Linked DNA regions of Homo sapiens. The protein of the gene in region 2 purifies or fractionates together with the protein of the main gene of each other region. This does not show direct contact. Each region holds a gene or a part of one and is shown on either strand. Other genes may lie near its edges.

Region 1 (10,655 bases), on a different chromosome or scaffold from region 2:
TATCTCACACACTCATTGAGTCACATAGCTTGCCCATAATTACAAAGTAGAACTAAATTCCATCTACTTTGTTTAAATGGTACATACTTTGTATTCTTTTCACATACGAAGTTCTTTCAAATTTCAAATACTGAATGTACTTTTCATTTCTTTATTCATTATTTCCACTCGTAACACTCTGGAGGGGAAGTGATTTCATATTAGTTTTTACCTGGTGGTGTTGTTTTAATCCAAAATGTAACCTGAATATTTCATTGACAAGTGAGCAGTCTCCACTAAGGTTAGCAGCTCGAACCTATCACACAGAAGACAAATAAAAAGAAATAAACGCTCATGCTCTATATATCTTTATGATATCAACCAATTTTTAAAAATTAGAAAAGAATATAAAATTAGCATCTTTGTCTGAGAAAAGAGTATTTGTGACACTTCTTCTTAAAGGACTTTTTAAACTCTATTGACAACGAGAGCAAATATCTATGAGCTATGCTAGACAATGCCAAATACACTGGAGAGATGGGGAAAAGTTCAATCGCCTACCAAAGGAAATTTTCTAAACTTTATGCGTAGCTTTACTGACAGAACTAATTTCTTTTGGAACCAAAAGTCAGAGAGCTAGACCTCAGAGTTAAACTACACACTCTACAAGATACAAATACTTGTAGAAATTGCCAAAAGTACTTCAAGAAAGCATTCTTGAAATAAACTGAGTTTCAATGTGACCTTAAAACTGAATGCATTAATATCTGAGACACTTTGAGAATATGCCCCTCCCAACCCTTGCCCGAATCTCCCTTGGAGCTTCCCTCAAACCTATATAAGTTCATGACCTTCCTCTAGGGACTTGATTGTCCTATGAAAAATGAAGCAATACAAAACACAAAGAATCAAGAACATTCCAAACTGGTCACGCTATGAGCATGACAGCCTGAAATTAGGACATATTTTCAGATTTACTATACTTCAATGAATGAAAAAGTCTTAGAACTACCCACATAGATTCTACAGGCAGCTTGACCACATTTTTGCTAATTCATTGCTAACAGAATGGCCCACTTCTTGTTCCTTCTTCAATATTATGGCCTCATTCCTCTGAGGAGCTCAAAGTACTTAACACACTTTAACTAGCTAAAAGGCATTAATTCTCACAGTACCCAAGAAAGAGACCTATTTAAAAATTCAGGTTTCAGTCTATTCTCCAAATAATTGGAATTATAATTAGATGCAGGGGGCTACATATTAATTTCAAGAGAAAGGGAAATAATCGAAGTTATATAGTATAGGCTTGAGATTTAGATTATTTTAATTAACTCTTCAATTAATGACATCCAAGTATATGCATATGCAGAATACGCTCTCTCTAGGAGCATATTCCAAGAGCAATCCAACGTGCTTAGTAATAAATATCTTTTTATGTTGTATTTTTGAAAAGAGCATGTTTTACTCTAGGGCAAGCAAGGAGCTCTATGGAAGGCAGCTGGGCAAGCTAGTTAAAAACACTAGTTGTAATCCTGCCTCTACCACTTACTAACTTTGGAATCTAAACAACTGTCTCACTTTCCACATATGTAAAACAGGGACAATAATAGTATAATATCTATCTCAGTAGGTTATTGTGAAGATTAAATAAGAATCTGTGCAAACAGAACAGTGTTTGGAACACAGCCCTCAGTAAATTTTAATTATTTTTTTATTTTTATTTTTATTATTAATGTCTCCTATGGAATACATTATAAAATATATTCCATAGGAAAAAATTAATAGCTTATTAAAGTCAGTCATCACTATTACTAGGACTTACAGGATATAGTTAAGAGAATTCTAAAAATACACTTTAAATTTCTCTAACTGTATATCAAAAATGGTATTCAATGTTAGTTATAAACCGAAATTCAAGACTAAGGTAGAACTATGACAGTAAGAAAAGGAATACATTTAAATAAATTACACTTGAATAAAATATTCAAGCATAGAGTATTCTGGAGAAAAATACAATAAAACTCACCTCTGAGCACGCCAAATGTCTGATGTTGGTGAACCAGTCGACATGGGCACGACAATGATCAAATGCATGAATAAGCTCGTGTGTGACCACTCTGTTCATATGGGCCTGATTATGGATATTATTCTGGCACAAAACTATCTAGGAGACACCAAAATAAAAGAAGTTCAGTGATTCTAAAATCTCCTTCCATAGACTCGATCTTCTCTCCCACATGACCTCACCTCTCCCCCACAAGCTCACCTGCCTGGAATATCTCTACCCACTCTTCTTCATTGGCCACACATCTACCCATGGGACAAGTCCTAGTCCTAAGTGTACATGCTCCAATTGCCTCGCCCAGTGACTAACTTCTCCCTTCTCCTCTCTCTGGACTACAGCAGTACTTAGATTAAGGACACGTATTCACACACCATCCTTACTGGGCTGATCGTACTAGTCTGTCTCGGACTCCACAGCATTATGGTTAAGAGAGTGGGCTTTGGAATGAAGCACACAGATTCAAATTCCAGCTCCACCCCTTACTAACTCAGTGACCTTAGGCAAGTTTCTTAATCTCTCTGTACCTCAATTTCCTCAACTATAAAAAGGAGATAATTAGGGTAGCTACCTCATAGAACTGTGAGAATTAAATGAGAATATATGTAAAATACTTCTTATCAAGTTTCTGAATGAGCATTGAATGAAAAAGGAATGACCACCACTGTCCTCATTTTACTAGAATGAGGGCAAATGCCAGGGAAAACTCATCAGAAAGACCTTCAGAAAGAAGTGCAAAACACAACAGCACACTGAGCAGGACCCTATAAGAATAAGAAAGACACAAGGGATCCTAATAGTAATAGCTGCCATTGATTGTGTACTACTGCCAGACACTGGGATATGTGCCAGATATTTATATACATTCATTCAACATCCATTGATTCAACTAATACTTATTGAGACCTAATAATAGATTATAATCTACTGATGGAGATAGAAACTAACCAAATATTTACCAAAATGTTTACATACATGCAATGACAGTTGTCATGAAGAAAAACCCAGGTTGTCATGAGCATATACAATGAGGTTGGGTGCAGTGGCTCATGCCTATAATCCCAGTACTTTGAGAGGCTGAGGCAGGCAGATTCCTTGAGCCCAGGAGTTCGGGACCAGCCTGGGCAACAGAGCAAAACCCCATCTCTATAAAAAAATAAAATAAAAATTAGCCAGGCATGGTGGCACATGCCTATAGTCCCAGCTACTTGGAAGGCTGAGGTAGGAGGATCACTTGAGCCCAGGAGGTTGGTGCTGCAGTGAGCCAGGAACACGCCACTGAACTCCAGCCTGGGCAAGAAAGGGAGACCCTGTGTCAAAAAAAAAAAAAAGAAAAAGAAAGAATGCCTGACCTACTCTGGAGGTGGGGGAAGGTTTCTCTGTGGAAGGAATGGTTAAACTGGTATCTAATGGAGGAATAGAAGTGAAATTTGAGGTGTGGAGGGGAAGGGAGTATTCTAGGCAGAGAGAAAAACCTATGCAAAGCGTAGAGGGAGGGTTGACGGAAGAAAATGCTTGAGAAGCTAAAAGGAGAGCCCTAGAGTTGAAGCACAGCGGTGGGGGTGGTAGGCAACAGATACGGCTGGTGAGGTCGGGGGGCCAAATCCCTGAAGACCTTGTCTTTACCCTAAGAGCAATGGGAAGCTCTCAGGATAAAGGGAATGTTGAAACAGAAGACTGCTTTTGTTTTATTTTGCTTTTATCCTTTTAACTATAGTTGGAAGAATAGGCAGGAGATGGCCAAAACTGGATGCAGAGAAATTAGCTGAAGGCTAATATTCTAGGCAAGAGAGAACAGCACTTCAGCTAGAATGGTGGTGGAAGCCAAAAGAGTTATTTAGGAGGTAAATTAGACAAAATATGTTGATAGAATACGGGGAAGGAATCAGGGGTATCAAAGATGATCCATAAATTTCTGGCTTGGCTAATAGGGTCGATGGTAGCACCATCCACTGAGATATGCAAAACTAAAAGACTGGGTTGAGTGGGGAGATGGGGGATGGTAAAAATCATGAATTTGGACTTACACATTTCAAGTCTGAAGTGTCCTTAAGACCCTTAAGTAGGTGGGGAGCAGTGGCTCTCACTTGTAATCCCAGCACTTTGGGAGGCTGAAATGGAAGGATCATTTGAGGCCAGGAGTTTAAGACCAGCCTGGGCAACATAGTGAGACCTCATCTCTACAAAAAATTTTAAAAGTTAGCTGGGTCCAGTGATGCACTCCTGTAGTCCCAACTACTCAGGAGGCTGAGATGGGAGGATTGCTTGAGCCCAGGAGTTCAAGGCTGTAGTGAGCCATGATTGCGCCACTGCACTCCAGCCTAGGCGACAGAGCAAGACCCTGTCCCAAAAAAACTTTTTTTCCTTAAAAATAAAAATAAATAAATAAATAAAAAGATGCTCAAGTAGAGGTGTTAAATGGGCACTTGGATATATGGAATGTGGAGTTCTTAAAAGTGAGCTTTGACCCCAGAAAATTGATGAGACCTCCTTGGCAGAGTAAGAAAAGAAGGGGCTCTATGACCAAGGATTGAGGGACTTTGACATTTAAATGCTAGTAGAGGAAGGTAAGCTAGCAAAGGAGCAACCAGAAGAGTGCTGTATACTAGAAACCAAAGAAAGTGTTTGGCATTAACAGCTGAAGTCAAGTGTATACAAACTATATGACCCAGTAATTCTGCTCTTGAGCATATACCTTAGAGAAACTCTTGCACATGTGCACCAGTAGCGAAGGTCAAAAATATTCATAGCAGCATTGTTCATAATAACAAAGTTGGAAACAATCAATATTAGAGTAAACTATAGTATAAACACACAACGGAATAAATACCATATAACAGGGAAACGAAATAAACCAGAGAGGTACACACAACAACAAGAAAGAATCTCACAAATGCTGAAGGTGGAAAGTAATTGGAGACTATATACTGTACAATTTCATAATACTACAAAATGCTACATAAAATTCAAAGTATAACATGTATAAAGCTCAAAAGCAGGCAACTAAATAACACACTGTTGGATTGTATATGTAGATGGTAAAGCCATTCAGAAAAGCAGGGAATGGTTACCACAAAAGTCAGGATAAGGAAGGGAAAAGGACCTGATTCAAGAGGACCACGAAGGCTTCTGAAGTCCTAGTAATGTTCTTTTTCTCTAGTCTGGGTGGTGGTTACATAGGTGTGCACTTTATTATTACTGAAAGTGTACATATAGATGTTTTACTCTTCTGTATGAATGAGATACTTCATAATAAAAATTTTCATTTAAAAAAATAGGCCAGGCACAGTGGCTCACGCCTGTAATCCTAGCAGTTTGGGAGGCCAAGATGGGTGGATCACCTGAGGTCAGGGGTTCAAGACCAGCCTGGCCAATATGGTGAAACCCTGACTCTACTAAAAATACAAAAATTAGCTGGGCATGGTGGCACATGCCTGCAATCCCAGCTACTCAGGAGGCTGAGGCAGGAGAATCACTTGAACCCAGGAGGCAGAGGTTGCAGTGAGCCCATATTGCACCACTGCATTCCAGCCTGGGTGACAGAGTAAGACTCTGTCTCAAAAATAATAATAATTTAAAAAATAATAATAAAATAAAAGGAGAGGGTGCCCAACTGTGTTCAACACTGCTGAGAATTAGGATGAAAGTTCAAGATGTGCACTCTGTTTAACCCTGGGGGGACCGAGAAGGGAGTGAACTTATCCAGAGCCATTTTGAGAGCTATAGGTATTGTGATTACCAGTTTACAAATGAGGAAACTGAGAAGAAGAAAAATAACTTGCCCAAGCCCCACAGATAATAAGCAAGGAAACTAGGATTTGAACTCAAGTCTGACTCCAAAATCTAGACTTCTCATCCTTGTTCTATATTGCCACTTCACATGATTACTGTAAAAATGCTATAAATAACCTAAATACATACAAAATTATCCAGCAGGAAACAGTTAAGTGTAGTTAAGTATGAATTATACATTCAAGTGGGAAACAGTTACTTATAACACCATCATTTACCCTGATCACATGACATTATCTACCACCTCCAAGACTCTGTCGAAACTCTCTGATGACTTAAAACTAATAATAAAATTTATTGAATGCTTACTATGGGCCAGGCACTAAGATAAGCAACTCTATAAGAGATATCTCATTTAATTCTCATAATCATTCCATAAAATAGATACAATCGTTGCCCAAATTGTACAGATTAGAAAACTCCCCTAATAAAAAATTTTCACAGGCAGTATCAATTCTCACCACGTAAAGGTAAAAACCCTTTAATTTAGCATTCAAAACCTCCCACCATAGGGCTTACATTTCCTTCCAATCCTATTTTCCCTCATTCCCCACATGTTCCTGCCCTCCAGATAAACTAGACAATATGCCATTCCCTACACATGCCATGCAGTTTCGTAGCATGCACTTTTGCTCATGCTGCCCCTGCTCTGTCCCTGCTCTGCCCCTAAGGAGGCTTTATATCCTCTAGTCGAATCTGTTGGCATCTTTCAATCGATCACATCACTGTTCCATTGTGGTAACCAAGCCCACCTAAAATGGTTTAGCTTGCCTCATTTTATAATTATCTGTGTTCATGTCTTATCTTTCCTGTAAGGCTGTAAACTCCTTAAGAGATTTTAAGAGTAAACTCCTTAGAGTAAGGATAACTAATTCACTTTTTTAGTCCTACATAAAGTCTACCAAACAGAATGCCGAGCATGTGGAAGATGCTCAAAAAATATAAAGAGAGAGGATTAAAGGGAAGGAAACAATTTGGCAATAATGCCTACCTGAGATGTTGAAGCATCAAAACCTCCACTGACATTTCCATTACAGTCTTCGCAAGAAAAGTGTCTATCTTTGTTAACAGCACTAAAAGGCAAGAAAAGGAGACAATGTCCAGAAACAGTGTGTATGTGGCAAACAGCCCTGGGCCAGGGCTCAGGAGACCCTCCACCATATAGTAAATCCCCTCTACTACTAACACATAGGAAATCTTGGGAAAGAAACAACATCTTCAGGACTGTTATCTCACCTGTAAAATAAGGAGGTTGTACACAAAATCCATTCTAGTTCAAATTCTATAGATATGATTCCATAAAACATTTGTCCCCCAGGCGCGGTGGCTCACGCCTGTAATCCCAGCACTTTGGGAGGCCGAGGCAGGTGGATCACCTGAGGTCGGGAGTTCAAGACCAGCCTGACCAACATGGAGAACCCCCCATCTCTACTAAAAATACAAAATTAGCCGGGTGGTGGTGGGCGCCTATAATCCCAGCTACTCAGGAGGCTGAGGCAGGAGAATCTCTTGAACCCGGGAGGCGGAGGTTGCGGTGAGCCGAGATCGTGCCACTGCATTCCAGCCTGGGCAAAAAAAAAGAGCAAAACTACGTCTCAAAAAAAAAAAAAAAAAAAAAAAATTTGTTCAACTGATTATGGCCATATTGCAAGTATGCTGGAGTTCCTGCCCTTGGGCCAGAATGTTAAGAAGTGGATGTCAGAAGTCACTTCCTTTAAACCCCTCAAAGTTATACAACATCTGCAAGGTTCCTACATAACAAGCTGAGATTTCTTTTCCATTAAAAACAGTGCTCAGGCTGGTGTAGCAGAAAGGCCAGGCTTGGTAATTACTTACAAGAAAATTTTGAGTACTGTCTTTATTAATCACCCAAGGTGAATGGTAAGAACTAGAAAATGAGCTGGGCTGGCGCAGTGGCTCACACCTGTAATCCCAGCACTTTGGGAGGCCGAGGTGGGTGGATCACTTGAGGACAGGAGTTCGAGACCAGTCTGGTCAACATGCTAAGACCCCATTTCTACTAAAAATACAAAAATTAGCCGGGCATGGTGGCGTGCGCCTGTAAACCCAGCTACTTGGGAGACTGAGGGAGAAGAATTGCTTGAACCTGGGAGACGGAGGTTGCACTGAGCCGAGACAGCACCAACGCACTCCCACCTGGACAACAAGAGCGAGACTCTATCCCCAAAAAAAAAAAAAAACATGAGTTAGGGCAGAAAATGTCCAAAGAGAACAAGGCCAGCCCGGAGACAATGCAGCCAATTACCTCTATTTACCCTATGGAAAAGACTTTGTGACCTCAGAGAAATCTTAAGCAGTTCTCTTAAGAAGAGAACTTGGTTTTTGTTTTCAGCAGCCAGACCTCAGAGCAGCACTTCAAAAAGAGTTACTTACCAACCTGAGTGTTTCATAGCATCAAGCAGAAGTTTGACATATGGATCTAAAAAAGATATTGATTTAATTAAGTAATTGGAAAAGTAGCACCAATTAAACTACCCAAATAGCAGTGTAAGATATTATCAAAAAGTAACTCACAGGCCAGATGCAGTGGCTCATGCCTGTAATCCCAGCACTTTAGGAGGTTGAGGCGGGTGGATCATTTGAGGCCAGGAGTTCAAGCCCAGCCTGACCAACATGGCAAACCCCGTCTCTACTAAAAATACAAAAATTAGCTGGGCATGGTGGCACACGCCTGTAGTCCCAGCTACTTGGGAAGCTGAGGCATGAGAATCACTTGAACCCAGGAGACAGACATTACAGTGAGCTGAGATCACACCACTGCACTCCAGCCTGGACGATAGAGTGACTCTGTCTCAAAAAAAAAGTAATGTTATCTTAAAATTGGTAAAAATTGACATGAGAGGCCAAGCTTAAATCAACATCAAAGCAAGTTTGTACTGAAATAAAACACTAATACAAATACCAAGATGGTACTACTAAGCATCTTAGACAATATCAACTATGCTTTTAAAGTTCATTTTTAGTTAAATGATCAAACACGTTGTATTACGGTATATACCAAAAGACTGAGGGAATCTAGGGCCACATTCTTAGAAGTGAACAACAGCACAGTACCTAGATTTGAGGAAGCCAGTAGCCACACTGTTCTGTCCTGATCAGATCATACCGGCAATACCATGTCCCATGCTGAGTACTACCACCTTCTAAATTGGACCTGCCACTGAAGCTCTTCCACAGGGGATGGTGACTAGGGTACTACAGACTATTTCCAGTAAGAAGCAAGAAAGGATTTGGGGGGTTGGAAAGGAGACAGAAGACTTAACTAGGACCACACTACTTTCAAGTATTGAAGGGGTGCCATGTGGGACTAGATTCAGTTAATATTTCTTCAAAGGGCAGAACAAGGACCAAAGTATGGAAGTTACATGTGGCAGATTTCAGCTCAGTATGAGAAAGGATTTTTCTCCAACAATTAAAGCTGGTGAAACAATAGACAGTAGATTGAAAGAGCCTCAAGGAACAGGTAACTGTATTCCAGGAGAGGTCTGTAGAGTATCTGGCCAGCAATAGCACAGAGGTTTCCCTGTAAGGGGACGGGGAGGCCTAGACGATTCCTGAGGGCCCTTCCACATCTAAGACTCTATGGGCCCGTGACTACTACAGGAAAGTACAAGGAGCCCAAATGCCTCTGATATTAACTTTTCACATAGGCATCTTGTCTGAGAATATAAATGCACAGCCAATTATATGATGTAACCCAAAAAAAGTGAAAAAGAAACTAAGGTTTAAAAAAAATGTTGAAGGCAAAAATAGGTGAGAAAAAGAAATGTGAGATGAGAAAGTCAGGTATAGGTTACTGCTTTACCAACCTGCCCCTTGCAAGAGTGTTCACAGTAGAATAATTATTGTTAACAATACGTATTATTGAGTGAATACCAGGTAGCAGGCACCATATTAAGCACATTATTATTCATGCAACTAGGAGAATTTTACAAAATTAAAACAGTTTCAAAAGTCTGTAGTCCTTGTACTTAAAAAAAAAAAAAACCATGGTTTAGTACTTCAAAAAGGACCTGCAGCAATATTTAGAATAAAATTGCTTTGGTGAAAAAAAAAAAAAAAAAAGAGACTCCCATGAGGTCTGGTTTCCACCACCACGCCCCACCCAGGGATAGCATTTTAAAGCTGCAGGTTGACACTTTAATACCACCAAAAGACCCTCCCAGCCACCCTGCCCTTGGAAGATCAAGGTCCATTGATTCCTACTGGGGCTCATGTTCAGCACCCCACCTTCCTCACATCCTATCTATTTCCACTCTTCCTCCACTGTGTGGCCCTTCCACTGTAAAAACAGCTACCATTTATTCAGCTCAGCTCCTGATATGCTGGTACTTTACATTCATAAAATCAGTACTTTTTTTTTTTTTAGACAGGGTCTCGCTCTGTTGCCCAGGCTGGAGTGCAGTGATGCAATAACAGCTCACTGCAGCCTCAGCCTCCTGGGTTCAAGCAAATCTCCTGCCTCAGCCTCCTAAATAGTTGGGACTGCAGGCATGAGCCACCACATCCAGCTAATTTTTTTTATTTTTTGTAGAGACAGGGTCTCCCTATATTACCCAGGCTGGTCTTAAACATCTGAGCTCAAGCAATCCCCCTGCCTTGGCTCCCCAAAGTGCTGAGATTACAGGCATGAGCCACCGTACCCAGCCCCATAAAATCTATTCTTCACAACAACCCTAAAAAAGGTATTTTCCCCTTCTCTTTTTTTACAATAAGGATAGTGAGGATCAGAGAAGTTAAGTCACCTTCCACACCTGAGGAAAGGGATCCGCATTTGAACCCACATCTAACTCTGCAACCC
Region 2 (10,936 bases):
AAATTATTTCAAGGCAAATCCTTGATATAGCTCTTCCTAAAATCCATAGCATTTTTTATTCAAAGTTGTCAATTTTGCCTGCTATGAACTTCCTCTTTTAAACATCTGATCAAACTACCTGATAGTTCAAATAGAAGAGCAGGAAATAAAATTACACCTGAAAGTTATGTAAGTTTTAAAGTTAGTTTTTTCACTTCCTGCAGGTGAAAGGAATCATTTAATTGATTTAACGACAACAGGTGAATGAAGTAAACTGATGTTTCTTTTGAAGTTTAGCTACTTCCTTTCTGCCAGTTGTTTACTATAGTAAAATGATCAGAAAAACTTCATGCATTTTCACATGTAATATTTTATTTTTAAATGTATAAAGACATGGCTTTGGTCATGATTGTTTATAGAGGTCAGATAATGCAAATAACAAGAGTAAATTTGTATTTTTTTTTTTTGAGACAGAGTTTCACTCCTGTTGCCCAGGCTGGAGTGCAATTGCATGATCTTGACTCACTGCAACCTCCACCTGCTGGGTTCAAGCGATTCTCTTGCCTCAGCCTCCCGAGTAGCTGGCATTACAGGTGCCTGCCACCACACCCAGCTAATTTTTGTACTTTTTTAGTAGAGACGGGGTTTCAACATGTTGGCCAGGCTGGTCTCGAACTCCTGACCTCCGGTGATCCACCCGCTTCGGCCTCCCAAATTTCTGGGATTACAGGCATGAGCCACTGTGCCCAGCCAAATTTGTATTTTTTTAAAGATGATGTCTGATTTTTTTAAAGACGAGGTCTCACTGTGTGGCCCAGGCTGATGTTAAACTCCTGAGCTCAAGCAATCCTCCTGCTTCAGCCTCCCAAAGTGCTGGGATCACAGGCGTGAGTCACCATGCCCAGCCAGATCTCTACATTGTAAACATCACAAAGGGTCTTTGGAGATCACTTGTCCTTGGTATCCAGGAAGTCATGGTTCCTCTGTGTGCTTTATGTGACATCATTAAGTGAGGGGTAGCCCATGCTACACCAGGTGCTGAAGGCTGAGACGGTGAGAGCATGAGTGATAAGATGCTCTCTCCCCTTGCTCTCTTTCTGAAGATGACAAACTCCATCTTTTTTCTAAAGTCTTACTAAAGGTGGAAATCTTTTTTCTTCACTTCAATTTTAAAAAATTATTTGTTTTTGTTTTATAGAATAGACTGAGAGTGGGCTTTTAAGAGTAACAAGTTGATTTTGTATTTATATACAAACACTGCATATTGTTGGACACTTATAAATAGGTTGATGAATATTCAGTATATATGATAGATATACAAGCAGTTTGGTGTGGATATATTAAACTTATTGAAAAATTTTTAAAATGTGAGATTTTACATATTTCTGACTTTTTCAAAATTTGAGTTTAGAAGAAAGTTGAAATATAGCTCAGAGCTAATTTTCAGGTTGAGCTCTCTGTAGCCCTAGGTACTCCAAACCAAGTATTTCAAGAGTCACCTGGAGTTGCGATACTTGGCAGTTTAGGGGGCAAGAACCCTTGTACTCTTTCTGTTCCTCCCCTCCCAACTGGGCAGTTGTATTTATTAAGCATCTGCACCATCCTTTGTTGAAGAAAGGGCTCCCCACCTAAGTTTGATAATCAATGGTCTACAAAAATAGCACTATGATGAAATCTGATGTCCTGGGAGGAAGGAATTCAGAACAGAAATAGGAAACAGGTTCCATTTGACAGTTTATTTAGTGCGTTCAGAATAGAAGGTAGAGAAAAAAGTATTGTAATCAAGATAATATTCATCTACAGAGGAATATAGTGAACATGCAGTATTTCTAAAATTGCAGTTTAACAAGAAATAAAAAAAGTACAAATGTTTCTCATTCAAGATAATCCACATTTTGAAGATCTCATTTTACACAAAAAAGGGTAATTAGAACTATAAACAGGTCTTCATTTTATAATAAGCACTTAATATAACTAATGTGCAGTTATGATTTTTAAAATTGGCAAACATGCAAAATTGCATTAAATAAGTTATGTCAGATAATTATCCTTTGTTTAATGTTTATTTACAGCTTGTAATTAATGTTTAATCATTTTGTTGTCAGTGGTGGGAATCCAAATTACACAGCACCAAAATATGTTGTCAGCGGCAAATCCATACGGGTCTGCAACAACAATTCTTGTGTCCTCAGGAGAGAATCTGACTAAGGGGCATAAGGCAGAAGAGACCAAGACAAGTTTTAGAGCAGGAGTGAAGGTTTGTTGAAAAACTTGAGAGGAGGAATGAAAAGAAAGTAAAGTACACTTGGAAGAGGGCCAAGCGGGCATCTTGGAGGACAAGTGCCCCATTTGACCTTGGACGTAGGGTTTTACATGTTGGCATACTTCTGGCATCTTGCATCCCTTTTCCCTTGATTCCTCCCTTGGAGTGAGAGGCCTGTTAGCACTTTGGAGGTAAGCATGCGCAATGTGTTTACTGGAGTTGTACGCATGCTCACTGGAAGTGTTCTTCCCTTACCAGCTGAATGTCCTTAGGAGGTCAGATACCAGTTAAACTCCTCCATTTTGCCTCTTAATATGCATGCTTGAGCCCACTTTCCCAACTCCTTGGATCTTATCGGGAAGCTGCCGATCACCAGTTTTAGGTGTTTCTATCTACTGGGAAACTGCCTTTTCCTGGCACTGGCTGCAATCAATTATTTTAGAGAGAGAGTTTAACAACCGCCTGACATTCCTGGTTGGGGTAGGGGGCACCTTCTCTTGCTCTGTTTATGCCTGAATAGCTACCTACTGTAACCATTTATTTTTCAACATACATTTAATTGAAAAATAATGGAAATACAAAATAGGAAAAGTTATGGTCCCTGGCCTCAAGAAAATCCATCTAGTGGGGCTGAAAAGAAAACTTACAAAACAAGTATCTTACAGCAAAGTGAGGTGAAGAGATAAGACGAATCAGAGTTGGCATGGCTGGGGCAGGTTTACATGACAGAAAGAGGCTTGAGCTGCTACTTGAAAGAAACACAAGACTTTGCAAATTGGGGTGGAAAGCTAAGGGATGCTAGGCAGAGGGTTGATGTGAGCAAGAAATACAATGTGAAGAGCTGTTCACAAGAGAATGAGGGTTTTCAACAGGGAATAATGAGAGAATTGATTGGAGCAAAAGGTTAGGATGAGGAGGTGAAGGAAATTTTTCTTTTTGGAGGGGGGTGGGCAGGGAACAGGGTCCAGCTCTGTGGCCTAGGCTGGAGTTCAGTAACAGGATCATGGCTCACTGCAGCATGGAACTCCTGGGGTCAAGTGATCCTCCCGCCTCAGCCTCCTGAGTAGCTGGGACTAAAAGGTACATGCCACCCCACCCTGGGATTTTATTTTTGAAGCCAAGGATCTCAGTTACCCCAGGGTGAAAGTAGGGTAACAATGTGTATTGCCTTTAGGGGTTCCTATGGAAGTCTCTTAAAGAGATGCTTCTACCCTCCCACCATGAGAGATTCTGATTTTTTCCTTCTTTGCTGTCCAGGTGACAATGTATATAGTATAATGAAGGATGTTACTAAATGACATGTGCTGCACACCTGAGTCTTGTGGAGGCTGAAGAAAAGGAGGCTTCTGTAGAAAATAGGAACTCAGTGAGTGTTTTCAGACAGCTGGGTAATGTGTATGAAGAAGAAAGCTTTGGGCCAGGCACGGTGGCTCATGCCTGTAATCCCAACACTTTGGGAGGCCAAATCTGACAGATCACTTGAGGTCAGGAGTTCGAGACCAGCCTGGCCAACATGGCAAAACCCTGTCTCTACTAAAAATACAAAAAGTAGCCGGGTGTGGCGGTGTACACCTGTAATCCCAGCTACTCGGGAGCCTGAGGCAGGAGAATTTCTTGAACACGGGAGGCAGATGTTGCAGTAACCTGAGATCGCTCCACTGTACTCCAGCCTGGATGACAGAGTGAGACTCCGTCTCAAAAAAAAAAAAAAAAAAGAAAGTTTTGGCTACTGGTGTGTTAGGCTTGGTGGGAGAAACTGAAGGCAGGGAGATGTAAGGAGTTGACTGCAATTGTATAGGAATTGAAGAGGCAGAAAGAATATCTCAATGTTTGATGGTAGAGAAGGTGAATGTCAGAAAAAACAAAGTGGAGCAGACACTGTACTAAGAATAACCATTTTTCAAAGTAGGTATTGTTTCTATTTTACAAACAATATAATCTAGAAATCAAATACAAATCCAAGTTATATAGGTTTTAGTGAGAGAGTTGGGCTCTGAATTGAGGTTCGTCTGACTCTAAATTCTGCTAATGCACTATGAATTCAATTTTGAGTTTCTAAGAGATGGAAAGAAAAAGACAAAAGATGAGCTTGCTTTTGAGGTTTGATGTACGGGTAGGTTGTGCAGCAAGCATCTGGAAAAGTGGCATTTGGCTTTAGAGATGTTGGGTATAGATTATTAAAAATTATTTGCACAGGGTGACAATGATAAGGATTCCAAGGGAGACCACTAAGAGTTGAAAAAGAAAGGAGAGAGCAAAGGCTTGAACATCAATAATATTCCCAGGTTAGAAAAAAAATGGGATCAATTATTGAAAAACCAGAAAAGGAGTAGGAAGTTATGAGAAATAGGAAGTGTAGCATCACCAAAAATAAAGAAAACACTTGTACTTAGGAAAAGATTGTCAAAGCTGTTGGATACTGCAGATGTCAAGGAGGCAGGTCTAATTTGGCAATTAGAAAAAAAAAATAGTTGGGGTCAGTAGTTTTATTTCGGAAGAGCATTACACAGGAGCCAATCTGCAATTAATTAAAAATCAAAATAGTAAAGATAGGGAAACAGATAATTTACTAAAATCTATAGACACTTCTTTTGAGATTTTGAAAAAATGAAATGAGAGAGAAATTAGCACATGGTAGGTAGGTGGAGGAGCAAGGCCTAGGGAGGGTTTCAATTCTGGGCTTCTTTATAGCTTGGTAAGGAAAGAGCCTGTTGAAAGGGTAAAAGATTGAAATGCAGGTAAAGAAAAGAAAATAAATGTCTTAATGGAAAAAAGTTTTTAATTTAAAAAGTAAAGAAAATAGGGCTGGGCGCGGTGGCTCACACCTGTAATCCCAGCTCTTTGGGAGGCTGAGGCAGGTGGATCATGAGGTCAGGAGATCGAGACCATCCTGGCCAACATGGTAAAACCCTGTCTGTACTAAAATTCAAAAAAAAAAATGAGTTGGGTGTGGTGGCATGCGCCTGTACTCCCAGCTACTCGGGAGACTGAGGCAGGGGAATCAGTGGAGGTTGCAGTGGAGTGCCAGAGCTGAGATCGTGTCACTGCACTCCAGCCTGGTGACAGAGCGAGACTACATCTCAAAATAAATAAATAAATAAATAAAATAGCAATAACACCTGTCATCAACCACAAAATTGTATAAAATAAGTTAAAGGCCATTCTTTTTATTATTATTATTATTATACTTTAAGTTCTAGGGTACATGTGCACAACGTGCAGGTTTGTTACATATGTATACATGTGTAAAGGCCATTCTTAAATCCTCCAATTTACAAACCCTTTTCTACTTTACTGTTAATAGTTTGGTGCAAATCTTTTTCTTTTTCTTTTCTTTTTTTTTTTTGGACACAGAGTCTCGCTCTGTCGCCAGGCTGGAGTGCAGTGGCATGGTCTTGGCTCACTGCAACCTCCACCTCCTGGGTTCAAGCGATTCTCCTGCCTCAGCCTCCCAAGTAGCTGGGATTACAGGCATGTGCCACCATGCCCGGATAATTTTTGTATTTTTTAGTAGAGATGGGGTTTCACCATGTTGGCCAGGCTGGTCTGGAACTCCTGACCTCGTGATCCGCCCGCCTTGGCCTCCCAAAGTGCTGGGATTACAGGCATGAGCCACCATGCCCGGCTGGTGCAAATCTTTTTCAACATCTTCTTTTATTTAAAGAAGTATCACTCTTTTCTCTTTCTCTGCATCTGTTCCTAAATAAACCCGTTATTAAATAAAAATGGTGCCGTATATGCATGCATGTTTTCAAATTACTTTTTTTCATTATATCTATCACAGAGGTCTTTCTAGGTTAATATTTACACTCATATCAAATCCATCTAATTCATTTTAGTTGTTGTATAGTGTTCTTTTGTTTGGCTAGATCATAATTTGTATAGAAATTTCTTTTTTATTTTGTAGAGAAGTGGGGTCTCACTATCTCAAACTCCTGGACTCAAGTGATCAACCCCTCAGCCTCCCAAGGTGCTGGGATTGCAGGTGTGAGCCACCACATCTAGCCTCAATGTGTGTAGAAATTTATACATTGATATACCTTTCTTGGTAGCTTAATTCTAAAAAGTGGATTGCCCTGTGTTGTGGGCTGACTACTCCCCAAAGATATCCATACACTAAGCTTTAGAATCTGTGAATGTTACCTTATATGGCAAAAGGTATTTTGAAGATGTGATTATTAACTTAATCACCTCTACTGAATATTGAAATAGTAAGATTATCCTGGATTACCTGGGTGGGTCCTAAATGTCATCACAAGGCTATGTGATGGCAGAAGCTGAACAAAGCAGTGTCAGACAGACCAAAGATGCTACATCGTTGGCTTTGAAAAAGCAGGAAGGTGGCACAAGCTAAGAAATATAAGTGGCTTCTAGAAGCTTGAAAAAGCAAGGTAATAGATTCTCCCCTGGAGCCTCCAGAAGAAAATAGTCCTTCTGGTACTTTGATTTTAGCCCTACAATACTCATTTTGGATTTTTGGCCTCCAGAACTGTAAGAGATACATTTGTGCTGGTTTAGTTAACCGAGCTTGTGGTACTCCAATGTGACTTTATCTGAACTTTATTACATCTGCAAAGACCCGATTTCCAAATAAGGTCATATTCATAAGTATGAGGGTTAGGACTTGAACATAAATTTTTGAGGGACACAATTCAATTCACACACCCATTTTCAAAAAGTCAATTCGATCTGTGAGTGGTTTTAAAATTTGATTTCTGTGAACCTACCATTTAATTCTGGAATTGTTACTGCCTCATTCCAAAGACAAAATTCTTCCTCCATTTGAGATTTTAGGAAGTCCTAGAAGAAATAGCTGAGCATGGGTGGATATTTTGGAAATAATCCTCATGGTATGGAGCAGAGAACGTCCCCAGTTATACATATGTAGCACATTATTTTATAAAGTTAGTATTTGAGCAAAACTAAACAATATATTTTTACACACACATATGCAGAATATGTGTATGTGATTTACGTATGACTATGCCCTAAAGAAAAGCAGCAAAGTGAGGGGACGTGGACGGCAGGGATGGCACATGCAGAAGCACGCAAGATTCCGCGGTGTGGAGGGTTCGTGGGTGCGTATAATTATCTTCCATTATTTACATGTGTACTTTATGCGTTCGTTAGCTATATTTTTGTATGTTTTAATATGCAACAAAACGGCGTATGAGTTACGCTTTAATGTAAAATTGTCTACATAACACAAAATTTAAAAGAAATGGCATACGGATAGTAGAAAACATGCTTTGAGGAAAAAGCGTCATGTACTAAGTCCAGAAATCGACATTGCAAAGAGGCACCAACTGTTTTCATCAAGCTGACTTTTCCAGGTGCTACTCAGAAAAGCTGACCGATGATAGAGCACTGGGTCAACTCACGCTAATTATGAAACCGTGAGTAAAATAATCTGTGCTTCTATGTAACTTAAGTACCCACAAATCAGGAAGCATTCCCGGATGAAAAGCATTCACAGAACCATACGCTGGTTCGCCACCTTCCCGGTGCAAAAACCCTTTCCTCGGAAATTCTCAGCGCAAAGACTTTGCCCTATTCCAAAATGGCTCCGGCGCCTACAACTTAAGCATAGCGCAGGTCCGGAAGTTACGCAACCCCATAAGGTAGCACGCCGTTACCCGTGGGGAGCGTTTCCGCCATTTTTGAAAATTAATTGGGAAGGTACTGGTTTTAAGTGTAGTTGCCGACGCAATGGCAGCCTTTGCAGTGGAACCTCAGGGGCCCGCGTTAGGTGAGTGAAATATTGCTTTTCCTTGCTGGCACTGCCATCCATGCTCTGGGCCTGGAGGCGGGCAAGACTGAAAGGCAGTCGTCAGGCTCTCGTCTGCTGGTTTCAGTCGCGGAGAGGGAATCCTTGGGTGCCCCCAAGTTCATAGTCGGTCCCCTACTCGACGCGTCGCCTCCATACTGCTACAAAGGTGGCGCCGGGAAGCTGAGGGCCCTGGGAGGGTGAAGAAAAGGCCGTCTGGCGGTGACTGAGCTGTGTTTGTGCCCCCACACGCCAGCCACGTTAGACTGGCCCATACCTTAACCTCCTTCTGATACCCGAGACGCGATGCTGGTTGCTGGATTCCCAGCTGGTTGCTGGTCCCCAGAAGCATCCCTGGGAGGAACTGACCGCGGTACACGTGGGTGGGCGGTGCCCTGAAGTGTGTGGGTGCAGTCCACTGCTTCTTGATCACCGGTGCTTCCAGTTCCTGTTTTGACTCCTCTCTCCCGGGCTTTGCCAAAGGAATCTTGTTATTAATGGAAGCTTGAATCGTGCAACATTTAATCAACCGTGTGGTTGGTAATCATTGAGATATTGACCTTAACAGCAAGCTAGGAGTTCGCACGATATTTCCCGCCTTTATTTGGGGAAAGTGACTCTTAAGTATTGTAGGAGGTATTTTTCTCTAGTAAGTCACGATCTGAATTTTTTTAAAGATTCATTCCCATTATTCATTGCGGAGCCTCGTTGAAATATGTCGTCTTTGAAAAAAATCTACCACTTTAACAGCACGCGGATTTCTTTTTTTCCTGCTGAGTTTTGCGACTTGTGAGAATCGTCGAAAATTTTAGAACGGAAAATAAACCGTCTTACTGTCATAGAGACTTACCTGAAAAGTTAGGTTATAACTTTCTGAGCTTGGAAAAGAGAGCAAATGTAATATATATGGTGTGGAAAGAGTCTTTAGATTTGAAGGGTATGTAATGCTTGCCATGTTTGGTGTAAAATAAGTTCTTTTTGAGAATAGAGTAACTTGAACTACTTTAGTCTGTCATAAAAAAACTAAATGCATAATGTCAATAATGCAGATACTCTGCATTAAAATTTATATATAGATGTCGTCTTGGTATTTATTTTTAATGTATTTTAGAGATCAAAAACTCTTCATTTCCAGTTCCAAATTTTTCTATTCAACAAAAACATTTTGGAGTGCATATTTATTGGGGTTACAAATGTGAGTAAACCAATCCCTGTATATTGCCTTGCCAGAAATCTGACATTAGCCAGTATTAATGTTTAAGTCCACATTTTGCAGATATTCCAGGTGCCCACTGGTGTAGTAAAACTAAGGGTTGACTTCAACAAACTGCTAGCTGAGTACGTATCTTTTGGGAGCACAGAATATGAAATGGAATTGAGGACATGCAGCATCTTTTCCTTAAGTTTGCTTTAAGTGAAATTTAGCCTGAGGGGTGGTTGGTGACAGTCCTGATTAAGAGCCCATTGTGCCCTCCTTCCTGTCTGGTGCTTTCTTTTTTCTTTTCCTTCCTTCTTCCCTCTCTCCCTCCCTCCCTTCCTCTTTTTTGACACAGCCGTGTCACCTGGGCTGGAGTGCAGTCGTGCAGTCTCAGCTCACTGCAACCTCCCCCTCCGGGCTCAAGCAATCCTCCCACCTCAGCCTCCCAGGGGCTGGGACCACAGTGTGCCGCCACTCCCAGCTACTTATTGTATTTTTGGTAGAGACAAGGTTTCGCCATTTTGTCCAGACTGGTCTCGAACTGAGCTCGAGCGATCCACCTGCCTCGGCCTCCCAAAATCCTGGGATTAGAGGCTTGCGCCTTCTACTGTGTCTGTATGTATCCAGATACATCAGAACTTTTCTTAAGCCAATTCTTACTTTATTTTGCTATAATTTTTTTTTCTTTTAGGGAGGGGGAGTGAATGTAGTGAATGTTACCAAAAACTTTGCGTTTAATATGGTATTCTGAATATCTGTTAAGAATATGCTTTTGTTTAGACTTTTGGTTTGATTTTAGTGGATCTTCTTACGAAATATTTCTACAGTGCCATGTAACATAGTAACTAGCACTTTATAAAATAATTACAATGTAATTAGAGTTTTTCACACCTTGTTTTAGCATTTGCTTTATCCATTTATTGAATTTGTTTTTTTTTTTGTCTTTTATACACTTGTATTGTTAATATCTAGGCCTAATATAATGGGAAATAAGAGGAAGACTAAATAGTTGGCAGCTTTCGGATATTAAGAAACAGATTGTTAAGGCCATCTAGAAGTTAAGTAATAGTTAATAAAAAACCATACAAATAACATAGCAAACATTTGACCCTTCTGAGTGCAATGAGTCACACTCAGGCTTGTCACCTAGTTGAAAATTATTTTCATAAGCAGAGATTGCAAATTCTACATTTATACTTTACTCAGTTTTTGCTATTATAAAATATTTGTAGAAAATAATAATTCGTATTTATTGAGCACCTGTGTATCAGGTACCAGGTCAAGCTATACTTGCTATAATTCTAACAAAAGCTCTGTTAGTGGATGCTAGCTATGCTTATTCCCTTTTACTGAGAGAACTTGAACCCACATCTTTGACTCCATAGCCCATTGTTTTCCTTATTCTGCTATTTTGCTCTGAAATTAGAATTATATAGCTCACTCATCTTCATAAGGGAAATAATATCTACTCTATAGATTGTGAGGATTTATTTTGTATCAATTGTGAGGTTTCAGTTCTCTAAGTTGGCTTTATATTAGGGGGATATTTAATGATGATTCTTTAATTTTTTTTTTTTTTTAAATAAAAAAGATGAGATCTCAGTGTGTTGCCCAGGCTGGTCTTGAACTCCTGAGCTCAAGTGATCCTCCTGCCTTGGCCTCCCAAAGTGCTAGGATTGCAGGCGTGAGTCACCATGCCCAGCTGTGATTATTCTTGACTTAAACTAAT

Evidence for each region.
Region 1: the proteins of NUP35 (region 2) and ATP23 purify together in Homo sapiens (affinity purification with mass spectrometry; 3 studies listed by BioGRID and IntAct, with this or other methods). This does not show direct contact.

The regions. Positions count from the first base shown.
Region 1 is NC_000012.12:57,943,246-57,953,900, reverse strand, and holds part of ATP23 (mitochondrial inner membrane protease ATP23 homolog), read right to left. Parts: intron 8,274-10,655; coding exon 8,228-8,273; intron 7,176-8,227; exon of another isoform or gene 7,141-7,175; coding exon of another isoform or gene 7,070-7,140; intron 6,907-7,069; coding exon 6,825-6,906; intron 3,188-6,824; exon of another isoform or gene 3,017-3,187; intron 2,144-3,016; coding exon 2,006-2,143; intron 296-2,005; coding exon 212-295; intron 1-211.
Region 2 is NC_000002.12:183,116,507-183,127,442, forward strand, and holds the start of NUP35 (nucleoporin NUP35), read left to right. Parts: upstream 1-7,936; 5' UTR 7,937-7,951; coding exon 7,952-7,991; exon of another isoform or gene 7,992-8,201; intron 8,202-8,286; exon of another isoform or gene 8,287-8,451; intron 8,452-10,936. UniProt on the Homo sapiens protein: Functions as a component of the nuclear pore complex (NPC).